Regions from separate parts of the Homo sapiens genome. Here region 1 is linked to region 2. Evidence: fine-mapped expression QTL. Tissue or cell type: esophagus muscle. Region 2 holds a variant in brackets; the other region holds the start of a gene. All regions are shown on one strand. Distances are from middle to middle.

The links. PIP is the estimated chance that this variant, and not a neighbour inherited with it, causes the effect.
Region 1: it holds the start of RAD9B, and the variant in region 2 is fine-mapped to the expression of RAD9B in esophagus muscle (GTEx, PIP 0.98). The same link has a PIP of 0.9 or more in lung.

Annotation. Positions count from the first base shown.
Region 1 is chr12:110,497,425-110,506,460 of GRCh38, forward strand. It overlaps RAD9B (RAD9 checkpoint clamp component B), which reads left to right and starts at 4,907. Exons shown (of 11, transcript NM_001286535.2): 1 at 4,907-4,959; 2 at 6,382-6,452; 3 at 8,193-8,348. The coding sequence starts at 4,914. It overlaps VPS29 (VPS29 retromer complex component), which reads right to left and starts at 4,687. Exons shown (of 4, transcript NM_016226.5): 1 at 4,625-4,687. The coding sequence starts at 4,627. It overlaps LOC124903015 (a long non-coding RNA gene), which reads left to right. Exons shown (of 2, transcript XR_007063458.1): 2 at 1,317-2,401. RefSeq lists a silencer at 1,700-1,994 and an enhancer at 4,516-4,655.
Region 2 is chr12:110,461,330-110,471,554 of GRCh38, forward strand. GPN3 (GPN-loop GTPase 3) reads right to left here and starts at 6,928. Exons shown (of 8, transcript NM_016301.4): 1 at 6,827-6,928; 2 at 3,777-3,885. The coding sequence starts at 6,874. It overlaps FAM216A (family with sequence similarity 216 member A), which reads left to right and starts at 7,516. Exons shown (of 7, transcript NM_013300.3): 1 at 7,516-7,689. The coding sequence starts at 7,547. LOC124903016 (a long non-coding RNA gene) reads right to left here. Exons shown (of 3, transcript XR_007063459.1): 2 at 9,310-9,487; 3 at 8,960-9,122. It also overlaps the pseudogene RPL31P49. RefSeq lists enhancers at 7,040-7,169, 8,090-8,259 and a silencer at 7,580-7,889. The variant G/C (reference allele first, on the strand shown) is at 4,246.

The sequences.
Region 1 (9,036 bases), 36 kb after region 2:
CAGGCTGGTCTGGAACTCCTGACCTCAGGTGATCCACCTGCCTCCGCCTCCCAAAGTGCTAGGATTACAGGCATGAGTCACCACGCCTGGCCTAATTTAAAAATTTCAAGATTTGAGAAACAACATTAATTTAGCCATTTAACAGAATACTGTTAGAAAGATCATTTAAAAATAGTATCTGTCTGGCTGAGTGCGGTGGCTCACACCTGTAATCCCAGCACTTTGGGAGGCCGAGGTGGGCAGAATACTTGAGGTCAGGAGTTCGAGACCAGCCTGGCCAACATGGTAAAACACTGTCTTTACTAAAAAGAAAAATACAAAAGTTAGCTGGGCACGGTGGCAGGCGCCTGTAATCCCAGCCAACTTGGGAGGTTGAGGCAGGAGAATTGCTTGAACTCAGGAGGCGGAGGTTGCAGTGAGCTGAGATGGCACTGGCACTGGCACTGGATGCCACTGGCACTCCAGCCTGGGCAGCAGAGTGAGACTCTGTCTCAAAACAAACAAACAAAAAAATAGTATCTATCCTCCAAAGGACAACAGAATCGATTTTTTTTTTTTTTTTTTGAGATGGAATTTTGCTCTCGTCGCCCAGGCTGGAGTGCAATGGTGCAATCTTGGCTCACTGCAACCTCTGCCTCCCAGGTTCATGCAGTTCTCCTGCCTCAGCCTCCCGAGTAGCTGGGATTACAAGCGCTCTCCACTACACCCAGCTAATTTTTGTATTTTTAGTAGAGACAGGGTTTCACCGTGTTGGCCAGGCTGGTCTCCAACATCTGACCTCAGGTGACCCACCTGCCCTGGCCTCCCAAACTGCTAGGATTATAGGCGTGAGCCACTGCGCCCAGCCCAACAGAATCAGTTTCTTCATGTTGATCAGTATAAGCACCTTCATTCTATACAAAATGTTTTCCTTTACAGATATTGCATGCATAAATGTACATGCCCTTTAACTGCTTTTAAAGGCATGACTATTCTTTAATATTATCAAAGAAACCATTAAATAGCTAATAGGATAAAACAAAATAGTTTTGCCACTGCAGACTTTGTAAATGAAAATTAATCAAACAAACAAAATGTATGAAATTAAAATGATTACCAAAAGAAGCTTGATTTATCTTGCAACAAAAATTAAAATTATTGCAAAGAAAAGGAACCGTTACCAGGACACAGAGTTATCGGGACATAGTTTGTAATCTCAAAGTAACACAAGGTTATGAAATTAGCACACTTTAAAATTGTTAAGTAAGATTCTTCTTTATAAAGACTAGTTTCAGCAGGTATTTGTTGTATGACCTATATTAATTGTTTCAATGCAGATCTCAGTGGACAAAACATCTGTAAAACTAAAAACCACTATGAAGTTTCCACCCTCACTGGTAATCAACATAAAAGTACCTGGATATAGAACAATCTTCATTTTAGAGGGGGATTCCTTCTGATATGGATTGAAGTACATAGTTAGTATGGGAATCTTGCTTTGAGAAAAAGGTAAAAATAATAGATTTCTATATTTAAAAGAAGAAGAAGAACAACAACAACAACCACCACCCCAAACTCATAAAAGGGTATATGTCTACAACAGGTTGAAATGTTTGGTACTAATAATGAATGAGCTGTTCAATCTGAATGTACCAGAAAGAACATTAGTAAGACATGGTACTTTATAATGATTGATGACCTAATTCTATAAAGTACTGTGGATTATCTCCAAGACTCAAGACTATTAGCAGTCTAAAGATATAACTGTATGAATGACCACACAATCATTTCAAATTAGTAGGGATCCTTACTAGGACAGAATCCTCTGGTTTCCTGCTGATGACAAAGTTATGGGGAAATAGTGTTACATAACACGTGTCATACTTTGAAACATGTTCCCGCCCAAATTCCACACTTTGACAAATCGGGATAGACATAGATGATAGAGTCCTTTAAGAAAGCAAAAGATCCTGGAAATGGCAGTCTTATTAAATTAAAATAAAGAGCCAACCCAATCAAAGCATGGGAATTCGGTTACTTCCTTTCAACAGACCTTAAAAGGGTAAGAAATCCAGTCAGTAAACAGCCACCCAACCACCACTGTTAGTAGGAGCTAAGTGAAGAAACTTACTCTGTGCCCAGCCTTAGTGGAATGAAGAAGTTGATTGCAGACAGGGGGGATGAAAAAAAAAGGGTGAAACATGACCAATGTTAAAAGAAAGCAACAAAAAGAAACCAAAAAAAAAAAAGAGAACAAAAAACCCATACCAAATGAGCAAACAATTGTTAATGATTTCTGAGTGTTATGAAAGAAAATGTTAAAAATCAGCTGTGCTCAAAACAATACCAAAATAAATATTTGCTTTATTTTTGAACATGACACACACACTTTTTAATAAATTTGTCTTGTCAGTTTCTCCTACTTTTCCTAATCTTGTTCTGTACATCGACTTCCATCTCTGTTTTCCATTCTGTTTAGATTTTTATAAGATTTTATAAAATAATGAATTTGGATTTCTACAAGACACTGTGGAAAATTTATCATCAGTAATAGCTGAAAGGCTAACATTTTCTGGATTCTTAGGGTTTAATTATTCAAGTATATGGATGTTAATTATCTTACATTCAAAATTCTAGTAGCTGGAAAATTATGCTGCGGCTAGGTGATTTTTTGTAGCTGATGCAACACAGCACCATGAATACATTATCAAGTGTTGAACAAATCAACTAAAGGTGAAGACAAAATAATAAAAACAAACACATTTATTCAGGTAAAACTGGACCTTTCCCACACTTGAATTTGCTGCCCACAGACTCTGGACACTGTACTGAGTGTTGAACGTCTGTATCCTTTGCCAAATAAAATGCTTTTAATCATGAAAGAACTGGCTAATGCTAAATTTTTCCCAGTTCTATTTCATATGAAAAATGATGTTCCAGTACAACTACCCTAAATAAGAGGGATCACTTCTCAAACAACTTGAGAAACATTAATATTTTGAAACCATGGCAAGTAATTATGTCTTCTCCCATGGATAGGTGTCTCGAAATTACTGTAAACGGATTACTTTAAATTGGAGTCTGTTTAGAAGCAAAAATTAAAAGTGAGATTAAAGATTTTAAAGAAGCATGCACCATAAATCTCTGGCTGCCATGTCTGTAAGTCCCCCTCTTGAAAAGGCTGTTTGTCATGCAATAGTAATAATCTTAAAAATGCATAGCTTCTTTGGTTTCCTTGTAAAAATAAAAAAGAATGCAATAAATGCCTGTCAGAGGTAGACGTCCCTTTACAGCCAACCTCCATCAACACAAATATGAAGATAATCACAGCTCCATTTCAAACAATTGATTTTTTTTTTTTTTTTGAGCAGCAGCAAGATTTATTGTGAAGAGCGAAAGAACAAAGCTTACACAGGGTGGAAGGGGACCCGAGTGGGTTGCCCCAAACAATTGACTTTTTAAGAGTCAAAGGCACCTTTGAAAATATGATTACAGGCCGGGCGCGGTGGCTCACGCCTGTAACCCCAGCACTTTGGGAGGCCGAGGCGGGTGGATCATCTGAGGTCGGGAGGTAGAGACCAGCCTGACCAACATGGTGAAACCCCGTCTCTACTAAAAATACAAAAATTTAGACGGGCTTGGTGGCGGGCGCCTGTAATCCCAGCTACTCGGGAGGCTGAGGCAGGAGCTGAGGCTTGAACCCGGGCGGCATTGCAGTGAGCCGAGATCGCGGCATTGCACTCCAGCCTGGGCGACAGAGCGAGACTCCATCTCAAAAAGAAAGAAAGAAAATATGATTACAGCTCTGAGTCCTCTCTAGTAGAGGCCCCCAGTTTTTATGTAGGAAGGTCTGAGGGGCACCAAACTACTGGGGGTGAAGGGGTGATTGCTTGAAGGTGGCTGGGGGAGACTAGGTAAGTCTCCAACACCGGCACTCTCCCCAGAAAAATGTGTATATTCACAAAAATTTCCCAACAGTTTCAATGAGTTCACACATCATTAAGGAATCCTACCCTAAAGAGGCGTAGCAACCCGTGGAAAGAAACAGTTCCAGCAATTGCAAGCGCCAAATCCCGCCCTCTGAGAGCACACCTGCTCATCTCAATGGCAGCTAGATGTTATTTCAGGAGCGAGGAGGGTGGTTTATTCCCTTTCCCTAGATGGCAAAGTTAAACGGGTACGAAATTCTGCTCGCTACTTCCTGTTCTGCATTCGAGAGGCCAGCTTCCACCACTACACCCCAACCAGCGGGAGGTGCTTTTTGCGGGAAACGAGTAGGAACCGTCTGGAAACGGAGGACCGTGCCCCTATCCCCGGAACATTCGAGGTATAGGACCAAAGGCCTTCCCTGGCTCGGGCGTGCGTGTCTCGTGACAGGTCGGGCTGCTAGAGGGGCCTTTTTACCCCTTGGATGGCCTCTGGCCCCTTGGGGCCGGGATACGAGACCTAGGCCAGCCGCACCCAGAGGTGGCCGCTCCCTTCCTTCCCTAGACCTCTTCTGGGCCTTTCCCAGGCCAGCGCCTGGGCCCTGACGCCGAGGCCTCCGGGATTTCCCAATTCCTCGCCCTCGGCCTCCCCACGGCTCCCAACAACGCAGCACCCCACCCGAGAGCCAGGCCTTGGTCGCCGCAACTGCAGCCCTCACCATCCTGTCACCGGGCTCCGCTCAGTCACCACCACCGTCGCCGCCCTCTTCCTCAGGCTCCTCGGCGACCCGCCCACTTAACCGCAACCAATGAGAGCAGAGGGAGACAGAAATTGCCGTACGGAGGCCCGCACGGACCCTTCTCCGCCGTAAAGCCGTTTGGGAACTTGTGGAGGCGGGGTGGTAGAGTGCAGAGACGAGATCGCGAAGCTTTGAAAAGCGCGGGCAACATCCGGGCACCTGGGCCGTCGAGCTGAGGCGCGCCTTCCGAGCCTGCTTTTTAGGGCGGATGGCAGCCATGCTGAAGTGCGTGATGAGCGGCAGTCAGGTGAAAGGTGGAGCGGCCTTTGTTGTCTTCCCATTTAGCAGAGAGAAAAGCAGACGTTAATAGGTCGTCCCTACCATTGTCTAATTTTTCCTCTTTGCCTTTTTGCGCAATGACTGAGGACGCACGCCCTGGCCACAGCCCCACCCACTCAAGTCCCTGTTAACTTCTGAGGGGAGGATGAGGACCCATCTCGTGTGACTTAGAGGCAGATGTAATATGGGTGGTATCCGGGAAATAGAGTTGTACCATCGGGCCACAAACTCGGGATGCTGAGGACTGCATGGGGAAGAGTTGAGAGAAAAAAATAATGCTTGGACAGTAAAAGTATTTTTGTGCCAAGAGAACAGCATTAACCTGGTTTTTTTTTTCCCCAGATTCTACCATTTTTAAAAATGTATGAACTTGGAAAAGTCACTAAATCTCTTTGGGGCTCAGTTTCTAAAACGGAAACAGGGGTAATGACAGCACCTTCGTCACAGAGTTTGTTTGGAGGCAATGAAATGGAAATGCGTGTAAAGAGCCCAGTAATAGATGGAATGTACAAGAACTATTAGTGTTGTAAACGGCGCTTTCAAAATGGAAGTTAGGCCGGGTGCAGTGGCTCACGCCTGTAATCCTAGCACTTTGGGAGGCCAAGGCGGGTGGATCACCTTAGGTCGGGAGTTCGAGACCACCCTGACCAACATGATGAAACCCCGTCTCTACTAAACATACAAAAATTAGCCGGGCTTAGTGGTGGGCGCCTGTAATCCCAAGCTACTTGGAAGGCTGAGGCGAGAGGATCGATTGAGCCCGGGAGGTTGAGGCTGCAGTGAGTTGAGCTCGTGCCACTGCACTCCAGCCTGAGTGTCAGAGTGAGACTCTGTCTCAAAAAAAATAAAAAATAAAAAGAACATTAACAATGTCGTACGGGATCAGACTAGTGTGTTTTCCAGCCCTAAATGTGTTCTGTGGTGGGGAAATCTGGCTGCCCTCAAACATCAGAGATGTATGTTGGATACCCCTAATTTCTCTCTCATGACTTGTTGTGACTTGGCTATCAAGCTATTAAAACCACTTCAGATTATCTTCTCCATGCACTGTTTTCACAGTTTTTGGGGGGTCAAATACATTTATCTAAATCAAGTTGTAAAATACATTAGTATGGAAATTGGTTTGCACAGTAGCTCCATGCAACACTGTAAACATATAGAAGGACAAATTTCGGTCAATTTTATCATTTCACACACTACAAATTTATTGAGCCCTGACTATGTGTCTGGCATTTTGCCAAGGGTATTATACTGTATTAAAGTAATGTAGCATTAGTCTGTAAGATACTGTTATTTTTGAATTTCTCTTGAGTCCTCTGAATGCTGAACTAGTCTTGTGATTTGTTTTTATTGTTAGAGGGAAAGAATATAAGCATCACCTTTCTTTTTCTCCATAGTATTTGGGAAAGCAGTTCAAGCTCTATCACGAATTAGTGACGAGTTCTGGCTAGACCCATCTAAAAAAGGTGTAAGTAAGAAAGTTAACAGATCACGTATCAAGGCAAGAGGAGATGTTTAAAGATCCCAGTCCAGATTGAATGTTAACTAGGAAATCCAGAAATTGTAATTATCCCTTTCACTGTTTATCTTTATTTTACATATCTGAATACACTTAGAGCATGGTAAAGTTGAAAATATGCAGATAAGCTTGATTGATTTAAACTGGAAGTCACAAACTGGTAGTTAAGAGACTAGCTACGGTCTGCAGGAATGTTTGTTGGCCTGCACTGTTTTTTTTTTTTTTTAATTTGAAATAATTTCCAACATTTAAAAATTGAGGCCGGGCGCGATGGCTCACGCCTGTAATCCCAGCACTTTGGGAGGCCGAGGTGGGTGGATCACCTGAGGTCAGGAGTTCGAGACTAGCCTGGTCCACATGGTGAAACTCCTTCTCTACTAAAAATATAAAAATTAGCCTGGCATGGTGGTGGGCACCTGTAATCCCAGCTACTCGGGAGGCTGAGGTGGGAGAATTGCTTGAATCCAGCAGATGGAGGTTGCAGTGAGTGAGCCGACATGGTGCCACTGCACTCCAGCCTGGGCAACAGAGTGAGAGTGAGACTCCGTCCCAAAAAAAAAAAAAAAAAAAATTGAGTCAAATTTTTCCTGCTTCTCTTGAAAATTCAGAAGACCTGACAGTTTTGGGACTGCATTCATTCCCAAGTGGAAGTAGTTGGCTGAAACTGAGTAATGGTTTCCCCGCTTAGACAAGGTGTGAGACCGCCAATATGCTGTAACTCCCTTATATATTGCAACTCCCTTATATATTGCCTTTTGCCATTTCACACATTAAGGTTAAGGCTCATGACTGGGTGTGGTAGTTCACAAATGTAATCCCAGCACTTTGGGAGGCTGAGACAGGAGGATCACTTGAGCCCAGGAGTTCGAGACCAGCCTGAGCAACAAAGCAAGACACTACCTGTCTCTACAAAAAAATTTTAAAAATTAGTCGGGTGATATGTTGTGTGCCTGTAGTCCCAGCTACTTGGAAGGCTGAGAGGAGGGAGGATTGGTTGAGGCCAGGGGTTTGGAGGCTGCAGTGAGCTGCGGTGGTACCATTGCACTCCAGCCTGGCCAACAGGCTGGTTTTTTGAAAAAAAGTAAAAAAGAAATTAAAAGAAAGTTAAGGCCCCTGTAGGCATTTACTATTTTATGTTTTCAACATGTAAACTTTTAGATTTAACACATATATGTATTCAATATAATATACATATATGTATACACCTATATATACGTACATGCTTGTATATATACATGTATGTACACCTATATGTATGTATATATATAGGTGTATAATAAATTAACAGACTTGTCCTGAATGCCATTTAAACTATCAAGTATAGAATACAGGTTATGTCCTGTATATATTATAGGTGTACATATATGTATATATATGCAAATTCAATACAGACTATATAGGGCAGTCCATAATTAACATCCCATGTTCTTATTTGAACACATTTAACTGTGATGTTAAACATAATGACGTTTTCTGAATCAAGCTATTATGTAAAGAAAGTTTATTTTCTCCTAAATTTTTTTAAAATAAAAAAATAGAGGTGGGGTCTTGCTCTGTTGGCCAGGCTGGTCTCAGACTCCTGGCTTCCATCCATCCTCCTGCCTTGGCTTCCCAAAGTGCTTGGATTACAGGTTCATGGGAGCCACCATGCGCAACCTCTCCTAAATAGTTTTTATCTTATTTTTCTAGCTTGCTCTAAGATGTGTGAATTCTTCTCGGTCAGCATATGGATGTGTCCTGTTCTCTCCTGTGTTTTTTCAGCATTATCAATGGTCAGCTTTAGTGAAAATGAGTGAAAATGAACTTGACACAACACTGCATTTAAAATGCAAATTGGGAATGAAGGTAAATATAAGTGGCCCTGGTTTTCTCTTATTCTGTAGAAATATTCATTATATAGGACATAACCTGTATTCTATACTTAATAGTTTAAATGGCATTCAGGACAAATCTGTTCATTATTATTATTATTTTTGAGACAGAGTCTCGCTTTCTTACCCAGGCTGGAGTGCAGTGGTGCAATCTTGGCTCACTGCAACCTCTGCCTCCCAGTTTCAAGTGATTTTTGTGCCTCAGCCTCCCAAGTAGCTGGGATTATAGGCGTGTGCCACCATGCCTGGCTAATTTTTGTGTTTTTAATAGAGATGAGGGTTTCGCCATGTTGGCCAGGCTGGTCTTGAACTCCTGACCTCAAGTGATCTGCCCACCTCGGCCTCCCAAAGTGCTGGGATTACAGGCGTGAGCCAGTGCACCTGGCCAAGTCTGTTCATTTTTTTTTTGAGACGGAGTCTCGCTTTGTCGCCCAGGCTGGAGTGCGGTGGCACAATCTCGGCTCACTGCAAGCTCTGCCTCCCGGGTTCACGCCATTCTCCTGCCTCAGCCTCCCGAGTAGCTGGGACTACAGGCGCCCGCCACTACGCCTGGCTAATTTTTTCTATTTTTAGTAGAGACGGGGTTTCACTGTGTTAGCCAGGATGGTCTCGATCTCCTGACCTCGTGATCCGCCCGCCTCGGCCTCCCAAAGTGCTGGGAT
Region 2 (10,225 bases):
AAAAATCTACAGACAATGTCGATGAGAACTAATCACTGATCGTCAAATACATCAAATAAAGTTATAAAATTGAAAAAAAAAAAGACTCCATCTCAAACAAAAACAAACAAAAATAGAAAAATTAGTCAGGTGTGCTGGCATGTGCCTGTAATCCCAGCTGCTCGGGAGGCTGAGGCAGGAGAATCACTTGAACCCAGGAGGCAGAGGATGTAGTGAGATGACATGGTACCACTGCACTCCAGCCTGGGTGGCAGAGAGAGACTGTCTCAGGAAAAAAAAAATCACCAACAGGAGAGGCTTAAAAAATTCTGGTATGGTTATCTTACTAATTTTGGGGAATCAGTATATAGAATCTTCTACCTTAGGTTTTTACTTATTTTTGTGCTCAAACCTACATTCTCCATTCACAAAGGACTGAGCTTCATTCACAGTCACATTTATACTGACAACACCTTCCTACCCCCTCCCTCAGCAATCAATAACAGATAACTGATCCAAATTGGGACAATCAATCTGGCTTTCTTTCTTTTTAGACAGGGTCTCACTCTGCTGCCCAGGCTGGAGTGCAGTGGCATAATCATGGCTCACTGCAACCTTGACCTCGTAGGCTCAAGTGATCCTCCCACCTCAGCCTCCTGAGTGGCTGGGAATAAAGGCACCCGCCAGCATGCCAGGCTAATCTTTGTATTGACTTGTAGAGATGGGGTTTCACCATGCTTCCCAGGCTGGTCTTGAACTCCTGGGTTCAGGCCATCCATCTGCTTTGGCCTCCCAAAGTACTGGGATTACAGGTGTCAGTCATAGCGCCCATCCTAAGTCCTCTTTTTAACTAAGCTAGCTTAGAGTGGTTTCTGTTTGCTGCAGCCAAATGGTTCCAAAGTAATACAATGCCTTTTTTCTCAAAGAAAAGCATTTCACATCTCCTCCTCTCCCTTCAATCTGCCTCCCCGCAACCTGCTCACTCATTAACAGAAATCAGAAGTTTCCCTTTGCACTTAGTGAGTGCAAAGAGAACGTCCCCAAACCTAAAACGACCTGTCTCCCTCCACAGGAAATTATATCATACACTGAACAAAGCTGTAAGACCTCACCCTTGATTCCTTACTTTGCTATGCCTTCTTGGTTCAATCCCCCACAAAATGCTGTTAATTCAACTTGCAAAATATATTGAATCTGTCTGCTTCCTTACATCTCCACCGTGACCACCCTAGTCCTGGTGTACACCTGGCTAACTACAACAGCGGCAGTGCAGGTTGTACTTCTTTTTTTAATTTTAAAATGGAGTTTTGCTCTTGTTGCCCAGGCTGGAGTGCAATGGTACGATCTCGGCTCACCAGAACCTCTGCCTCCCGGGTTCAAGCGATTCCCCTGTCTCAGCCTCCAGAGTAGCTGGGATTACAGGCATGTGTCACCACACCCAGCTAATTTTGTATTTTTTTTTTTTTGAGACGGAGTCTCGCTCTGTTGCCCAGGCTGGAGTTCAGTGGCGCGATCTCGGCTCACCGCAAGCTCCGCCTCCCGGGTGCACGCCATTCTCCTGCCTCAGCCTCCCCAGTAGCTGGGACCACAGGCGCCCGCCACCATGCCCGGCTAGTTTTTTGTATTTTTAGTAGAGACGGGGTTTCACTGTGTTAGCCAAGATGGTCTTGATCTCCTGACCTTGTGATCCGCCTGCCTCGGCCTCCCAAAGTGCTGGGATTACAGGCGTGAGCCACCATGCCCAGCCATGCAGGTTGTACTTCTACTCTCAACCCACTAGAGTCCATTTTTCATCTGAGCACCTGAGTTATTTTTTAAAACATAAATCAGGCCAAGTGCGGTGGCTCATGCCTATTATCCCAGCACTTTCGGAAGTCAAGCTGGGTGAGTCACTTGAGCCCAGGAGTTTGAGACCAGCCTGGAAATCGAGACCAGCCTGGGCAATGAGACCAGCCTGGGCAACATGGAGAAACCCCGCCTCTACAAAAAATACAAAAATTACCCAGGCATGATAGTGTGTGCCTGTAGTCCCAGCTACTTGGGAGGTAGGAGGATTGCTTGAGTCCAGGAGGTTGAGACTGCAATGAGCTGTGATCAGGCTACTATACTATATAGCCTGGGTGACAGAGTGAGACCTTGTCTCAAAAACAAAACGACAACAACAACAAAAACAAAAAAAGGCCGGATGCAGTGGCTCACGCCTCTAATCCCAACACTTTGGGAGACTGAGGCCAGCAGATTGCTTGAGCTCAGGAGTTTGAGACCAGCCTGGGCAGCATGGTGAAACCCTGTCTCTACAAAAAAAAAAAAAAAAAAAAAAAAAAAAAAAAAAGTATAAAAATTAGCCAGGCATGGTGGCACGCATCTGTAGTCCCAGCTACTTGGGAGGCTGAGATGGGAGGATGGCTTGAGCTCAGGAGGCAGAGGTTGTGTCACTGCACTCCAGCCTGGGCGACAGAGCTGGACCCTGTCTCAAAAAAAAAAAAAAACCCCAAAACGTGTATCAAATGTCAATCCTTTCCTCTTCTTAAAACCCTCTAGTGGCACCCCACTGACAACAGGATAAAATCCCATCTTATCATGTCCTGTTAGCCCCTACCCACTTCTTTCTTTCAGACATTACGCTTTAGCTCACTGACATCTTAGCTTTCCTGGAGAATACCAAATCCTTTCTCACCTCCAGGCTATTTATTTATTTATTTTATTTTTCAGAGATGGATCTTGCAATGTTGCCCAGGCTGGACTTGAACTCCTGGGCTCAAGTGATCCTCCCACATCAGCCTCCCAAGTAGCTGGGACTACAGGCACATGTCCCTGCACCCAGCTTGGCATATTTATTGATCTAAATGTTCCCTCATTTTGGAAGGACTTTCCTCAGCCTGAGGAGCATATTACCATCCTTCAGGTCTAGGCTCAAAGATCCCCTCCTCAGAGTCACCATTCTCCCTGACAATTCTAGCTAAAGCAACCTCAATGAGTACTTCTCATGAGCCTGTCTGCAGTCATCACATTCTGTAACATGTTCATCATGTTGTTTATTGCCTATTTCCTAAAGGGTTGGTGTGGGCAGGGATAATGTCTGTATTATTCTCTGCTATAACTCCGGTGTCTGGCGTAAAACAGGTGTTCAACAGACACTTGAATGAACAAATTGAAAGAATTAAAAAAAACAAACCCAGGCTCCTGACTTATAGTGATCAGCAATATACCACATGATTCACTACAGCAGGACTAAGGACAAAAGGGACAGAATGAAAGGGTGCTGAGGGAAGTGTCCATTTACTTTTTTTTTTTTTTTTTTTGAGATGGAGTCTCGCTCTGTTGCCCAGGCTGGAGTGCAGTGGCGCAATCTCGGCTCACTGCAACCTCTGTCTCCTGGGTTCAAGCGATTCTCCTTTCTCAGCCTCCTGAGTAGCTGGGATTACAGTCACATGCCACCACACCCAGCTGATTTTTTTGTGTTTTTAGTAGAGACAGGGTTTCACCATGTTGGTCAGGCTGGTCTCAAATTCCTGACCTCGTGATCCACCCGCCTCGGCCTCCCAAAGTGCTGGAATTACAGGCATGAGCCTCCGCGCCCGGCCCCATTTACTTTTAAATCTTACATCAAAGACCAAGAAAGGATACTGTCACACATATCACCATGAACAGATGTGACCAAATGACAAGCTCATGCTATTTACCATAACACCAGGGATCCAGACTATAATAAGTATCAGTGCTAAGCAGCTAGTACTCACTGCCTCCCCAGCCCTTACTGTTCCTGAAGGTGGGGGGAGCCTTTGCTCAGGACTTACCAGCCATCACGGAGTAGTTGAAGTGTTCTGCTGCTGGATCCAGGTTTACAACTTGGACAGACCGGTTGAGGGCTTCACAGTGCTGGACCATGGTGGCACAGTAGGTGCTCTGTAATGTCACAAGGCATGAGAGGTTAAAGCAACAGGTAGTGTAGTGCTACCTTCCATACTCTGGAATACTATCCACTAAGGTCAAAACTATGCCTTCATCAACCAAGAGGCTGACTGACAACAAGGGAAAAAGATACCTGACTGGGCTGCAGATTCAAACCTGACTTAGACTCATGGGTACCTCTGGGGAATTTACTTCTCCACTCTGCCCTTCAATTTTCGTGTCTCTAACTGGGATGTCCTCCATAATCACTAAGGCTCCTTACTGTTCTAAATGTGACAAGCGGTATTTAAAGGGAAGAGTTCTGGTTACATAGTGTAACACCTAACACAGTGTCTCTACCAGGACTTGTACAGT[G/C]CAAACAAAGCTTTAGGTAGGATGGTCAGGGATGATGTCTCTGAGTAGGGGAGATATGAGTATATGAGAAGGAGTTTGCCAACCTAAGGGGAAGAGCATTCCAAGATGAAAGAACGCCAAGATCAATAAATAGTCTGGAGGTGGCTATCAGTTTGTAACTTTTGGTTTAGATAATTCTTTATCCATTATGTAGTTGTTACCGTACTATGTTAACATCTCGGGCTGGGTGCAGTGGCTCACACCTGTAATCCCAGTACTTTGGGAGGCTGAGGTCGACGGATCACCTGAGGTCAGGAGTTGGAGACCAGCCTGGCCGACATGGTGAAACCTCGTCTCTACTAAAAATACAAAAATTAGCTGGGCGTGGTGGCGTATGCCTGTAATCTCAGATACTCAGGAGGCTGAGGCAGGAGAATCGCTTGAACCCGGGAGGCAGAGGTCGCAGTGAGCTGAGATCACACCACTGCACTCTAGCCTGGATGACAGAACAAGACTCCTGGCTCAAAAAAAAAAAAAAGTCTCTAGGCTACTTGTCTGTGTCATACTCTGTTTAAAGGCAGAGATGTGTCTTATTCAGTTTCCCAAGCACAGGGACTAGCGCAATACCTAGTACATAATAAATACTTGATAATTGTTTCTAATTGACTTATTATGTTTAAAGATAAGCTCCACAAGGGCACGGATTTTGTGTGTGCATGTTTTTTTCCCCATACAACCCCCAGGGCCCAAAACAGTGCCTGGGATAAAGAACGTACTCAAGGAATGTTTCTGATAGTAAGCATCAAAAGCTTATAAAGATACTTGTTTAATACAATCAGCCCAAAAATTAAAATAGACTATAGAAAAAACATCCATCATGCTGTCCTCTCAGTGCCTTTACACATACTGTTGTCTCTGTCTGGAATGCCCTCTCCATACATCACACACTGTATCTTTTTTTTTTTTGCAAAGGGTCTCACTGTCACCCAGGCTGGAGTGCAGTGGCACCATCATAGCTCACTGCAGCTTTGACCCAGGCTCAAGCGATTCTCCAGCCTTAGCCCCCCGAGTAGGTGGGACTATAGGCTCTCGCCACCATGCCCAGCTAATTTTTGTATTTTTGGTAGAGACAGGGCTTCACCATGGTGCCCAGGCTGACCCTGAACTCCTGGGCTCAAGTGATCTGCTGGCCTCAGCCTCCCAAAGTGCGAGGATTACAGGCTTAAGCCACCACACCTGGCCACATCACACTGTATCTTAATTGACAGGTCATCTATTTGTCTTCCCCAAAAGACTACAGACTCTGGGTAAGTTAAAGGCCATAGGTATCTTAGTTACATGTACATGTTTTTACCCAGAATAAGTCAACAGCTTAGAACAATGTGTTTGTTAAAGACTGAGGCCACACAACACCTCCACAGACTCTAGTGTTTCCACACTTCTTCTTTTTTTTTTTTGCGACAGTACCTCTGTCACCCAGGCTGGAGTGCAGTGGCACGATCACCACTCACCACAGCCTCAACCTCCTGGGTTCAGGTAATCCTCCCACTTCAGCTTCCCGAGAAGCTGGGACTAGAGGTACCTGCCACCAGGCCTGGCTAATTTTTGCATTTTTTTGTAGAGACAGAGTTTCGCCGTGTTGCCAAGGCTGGTCCCAAACTCCTGGGCTCAGGCGATCCGTCCACCTCCATCTCCCAAAGTGATAGGATTACAGACGTGAGCCACCACGCCTGGCTATGTTTCCCACACATATGTTATTTGATCCATATCTTCACCATTCTCACTGTATTTGAATGTTCCTAACATTCCCTTAATATTTGTTTACAAGAAAAAATTTTATCCCTACTGTAAACTGAAAACCACTTATATTTGACATAACGTGAAATTAGACATAAAATTATATAAAATCTTTAAATGTTCTATTTTTAGCTAAATACAGGTGCCTATTAAAAGCTCTGAGACTAAGAACTGCTCTCTGAAAAGACCTGGGGATTAAAGAAGTGCTGAAGATACACACTAGCACCGAGCACAACTTCTCCTAAATGCGAAGTTGAGAACTGAAAGAGAAATGAAAAGGGAACAATTTCCCTAACACATTATCTGATGCTCCTTAATGTGGGGTCCATGTACCACCTACCACCTAAAAGCACCTTAAATACCAAAAGTCCATGTCCCAAGTTCTGAGAAACAGTAATTAATGAGACCCCACTTTACCCTCCTGGGAGCGAGACAGGGCCGGATTCTGGAGTTGAGACAAAACTGGATTTATATTTTTTTGCGGGGCAAAGAACTTAATTAACCTTTCTGTATCTCGTTTTCTGTAAAATGAGAAAAATGAGATCTCTCTCACAGGGTTGTTGTAGAAATAAGCGAGGCGTTTCATCTGCTGCCTGGGGCTTAAGTATACAATAAATATTAACAACTACCATTATTTCCCTTTCAAAACAACAACAAAAAAGAACGTGAAGCCAGACAGCAGAAATGAGTTGCGTGGGGTCTCAGGGTTCCCAGTACACACACCCGCCGGCTCACTCCCTCAGGACCCAATCTCCCGCCTTCCACGAACTCCTACTTTTCTCTCCTTGTCCCCGCAGATCCTCACCTTCCCGCTGCCCGCGGGGCCCATGACCAGCTGCGCATACCGAGGCATGTTGGCTCCCGGAGCCGCCCGCCACACTCCCTTAGCCTTCGCGCGACGCCCACTGAGCTCCGGGAAAGTGAAGTGCGAACCAATCGCAATCCACATTCTTTCTACGCCTCCAGTTCTACCACACCTCCTACTACGGGGCAGCCCGCGGGCCAAATCCCGTGAGAAACGCGTCCTGAGAAAAAAGGGGAGGGGCGAGGGAGAGGATTTGCGCGTGCGCAAAAGTAGTTGATGGAAATCGGCCGTTGGGATGCTGTCTAAGCTTGGATACCTGAGTAATAACGGACAACAGATAAAGCTCCGCATCCTTGCGCCACGTGCTTCGGTCCGTGGTTTGCGTGCAGACGTTTGACCTGTATGGTGACCCTCGCGATTTGCAAATGTGCTGAGGATCTGGAATACTGAAGTGGAAGGCACCTCTTGTTTTGGGGAGCATGTATATTTCCCTCCTGTGACGCACTGCTTCCACAGAGAGGTGCAAACGTGCAAACGCTCAGCGACCGCAGCGCTCCTGCCCCTCCCCCACCGTAACTCCGGGGTCGCGGATCTGCCCGCCCCGCTCTCCCGAAGCTGTTCGGGCAGTGTCCGAACGGCTTCGGAGGGGCGAGAAGCCAGCATCCGAGCCGCCTCTCCGGAATACCAGCAGCCTGACGCACGCGTGCTGTCGGGGGAGGGATGCTGGGACAGCTGCTCCCGCACACGGCTCGCGGTCTCGGCGCCGCGGAGATGCCCGGCCAGGGTCCGGGGTCCGACTGGACGGAGCGTAGCTCTTCTGCAGAGCCGCCCGCTGTGGCCGGGACCGAGGGTGGCGGCGGCGGGTGAGGTTGGGGGCCCCGGGGTAAGGGTGGCAGCATGGGGCCCCCGGGTCGTGAGGCCCCCGGGTCGTGAGCCCCGTGGAGGAGGGCTGCGGCCGACCTCTCGTCTCGGGGGCTGGCCCCGGTGCCCTCAAGTGAGAGGCGGGGAGCAGTTTTGTTGTGGACAGAGGGCAGAGGGGAGGACTGCCTCGCGGTTGAGGGAGGGTCTCTGAGGGAAGCTTCGGAGGAGCGTTTGGTGCAGTGGCCACGAGGTGACTGCGACAGTCGCCCGCGTGCATCTCTCTGCCCCGAGGGGGCGCTGCGAGCCCTGCTGGGACGTTTGCTGTCTGGCACAGGACTGTGTGTCCACCGAAAGGCGAGGCGGGAGGGACAGAGGAGGAAGATGTCCCCCGGTTCAACTGGGGGCATCCAGGCCCATAAACCAGTTCCTTCCCTCTAGTGACATGAGCCACCTTCCTGTCAAACGGGGATTTCTTTTTCTTTTTTTTTCTTTTCTTTCTTGTTTTTTGAGAGCGAGACAGTCTCGCTCTGTTGCCTAGGCTGGAATGCGGTGGTGCGATCTCAGCTCACTGCAACCTCAGCCTCCCAGGTTCAAGTGATTCTCCTGCCTCAGCCTCCCGAGTAGCTGGGATTACAGGCGCCTGCCACCACGCCCGGCTAATTTTTGTATTTTTAGTAGAGAGGTGGTTTCACCATGTTGGCTAGGCTTGTGTCGAACCCCTGACCTCAAGTGAGCCGCCCGCCTCGGCCTCCCAAATTGCTGGGATTACGGGGTGAACCATTGCGCCCGACCTCAAACGAGGATTTCTAATCGCCAATGAGACCAATGACTGAATATCCGAGGTGCCTTGATCTTGACATTTTCTTCACACTGAAGTTCCTTTTTTCACAAATCTATTTCGTTTTGAGCAGGTTTTTACACCTATTTCCTAGATAGTGAAGACAGCGAGCTGTTGAAGTCACTGCTGGAGACTCTACCTCCTCTTCCTCTCCCTACTTTATTCCCTAAAAGCAAGAACTGCGATATGTTTGCCGTTCAGTACAACCCGCAGTCAGGGCCCCTGTTGCACCCATGGCCATCCTTTTTGTTTTTTTTTTTTTGAGACAGAGTCTCGTTCTGTTGCCCAGGCTGGAGTGCAGTGGTGCCATCTCAGCTCACTGCAAGCTCCGCCTCCCGGGTTCACGCCATTCTCCTCCCTCAGCCTCTGGAGTAGCTGGGATTACAAGCGCCTGCCACCACGCCCGGCTACTTTTTTGTATTTTTAGTAGAGACGGGGCTTCACCGTGTTAGCCAGGATGGTCTCGATCTCCTGACCTCGTGATCCGCCCGCATGGCCGTCCTTTTTGTCTCTGGTGCTACTGAAGACTTCTTAAAGATGGGATGGAGTCTTGGGTTTCTTTTCTGTTCTTCACAGTCCTTGGCCGACTGCAGGATCCTGGTGTATCAGGAGATACGTGAATTTTTTTTTTTTTTTTTATTGAGACAGAGTCTCCCTCTGTCACCCAGGCTGGAGTGCAGTGTCACGATCTCAGCTAACTGCAACCTCCGCCTCCTGTGTTCAAGCAATTCTCCTGCCTCAGCCTCCCAAGTAGCTGGGACTACAGGTGTGCGCCACCACGTACCTGGCTAATTTTTGTATTTTTAGTAGAGATGGGCATGAGCCTGTAATCCTGGAAGGTTCTATTATGATCCCCACTTTATGGATGACAAAACAGGCACAAAGAGGTTGTTTGTCCTTTCCTTTTATCTCCGCCTGTCGTTCATCTCCATGCTTCCTTTAGTTTATCCAAACTCTTAAAACTACAATTAAAAAAAAAGACAGTATGCCCTTCAGTTTGGTTTAAGGAACCCCATTAAAAAACACAAACCAAGACTAATTTATGAAAAGCTTATATTCCCAGAAATACAAAATAAAATTTTCAAACTAGAATCAGGTTTATTATGCTACATGATACAATGTTGGCACTGGCAGGGGTCTTAAAAATCATCAATTCCGGTCATATTTACTAATCTGAAAGGGGAAGTGATCTGCCAAAAATCCCATTATTAACTAATGGGAACTCCGGAACTCCTTACTTTTTTTCTTCTTTTTTTTTGAGATGGAGTCTCGCTCTGTCACCCAGGCTGGAGTGCAGTGGTGTGATCTTGGCTCACTGCAACCTCCGCCTCCCAGGTTCAAGCGATTCTCCTGCCTCCTGAGTAGCTGGGACTACAGGCACGTGCCACTACGCCTGGCTAAGTTTTTGCATTTTTAGTAGAGAACGGGGTTTCACCATGTTAGCCAGGATGGTCTCGATTTCCTGACCTCGTGATCCACCCGCCTCGGCCTCCCAGAGTGCTGGATTACAGGCGGGAGCTACCGTGCCCAGCACTTTTTTTCTTTAAAGTCAGGTTTATTGAGGCATAATTTACACAAATTAAAGTCTTACTTTTTCATGTATAATATGATGGGTTTTGACAAATGCACATGGCTATGTAAGCACTGCCACACTAAAGATACAGAGCAGCTCTATCACTCCTTCAAAACTCCCTCATACC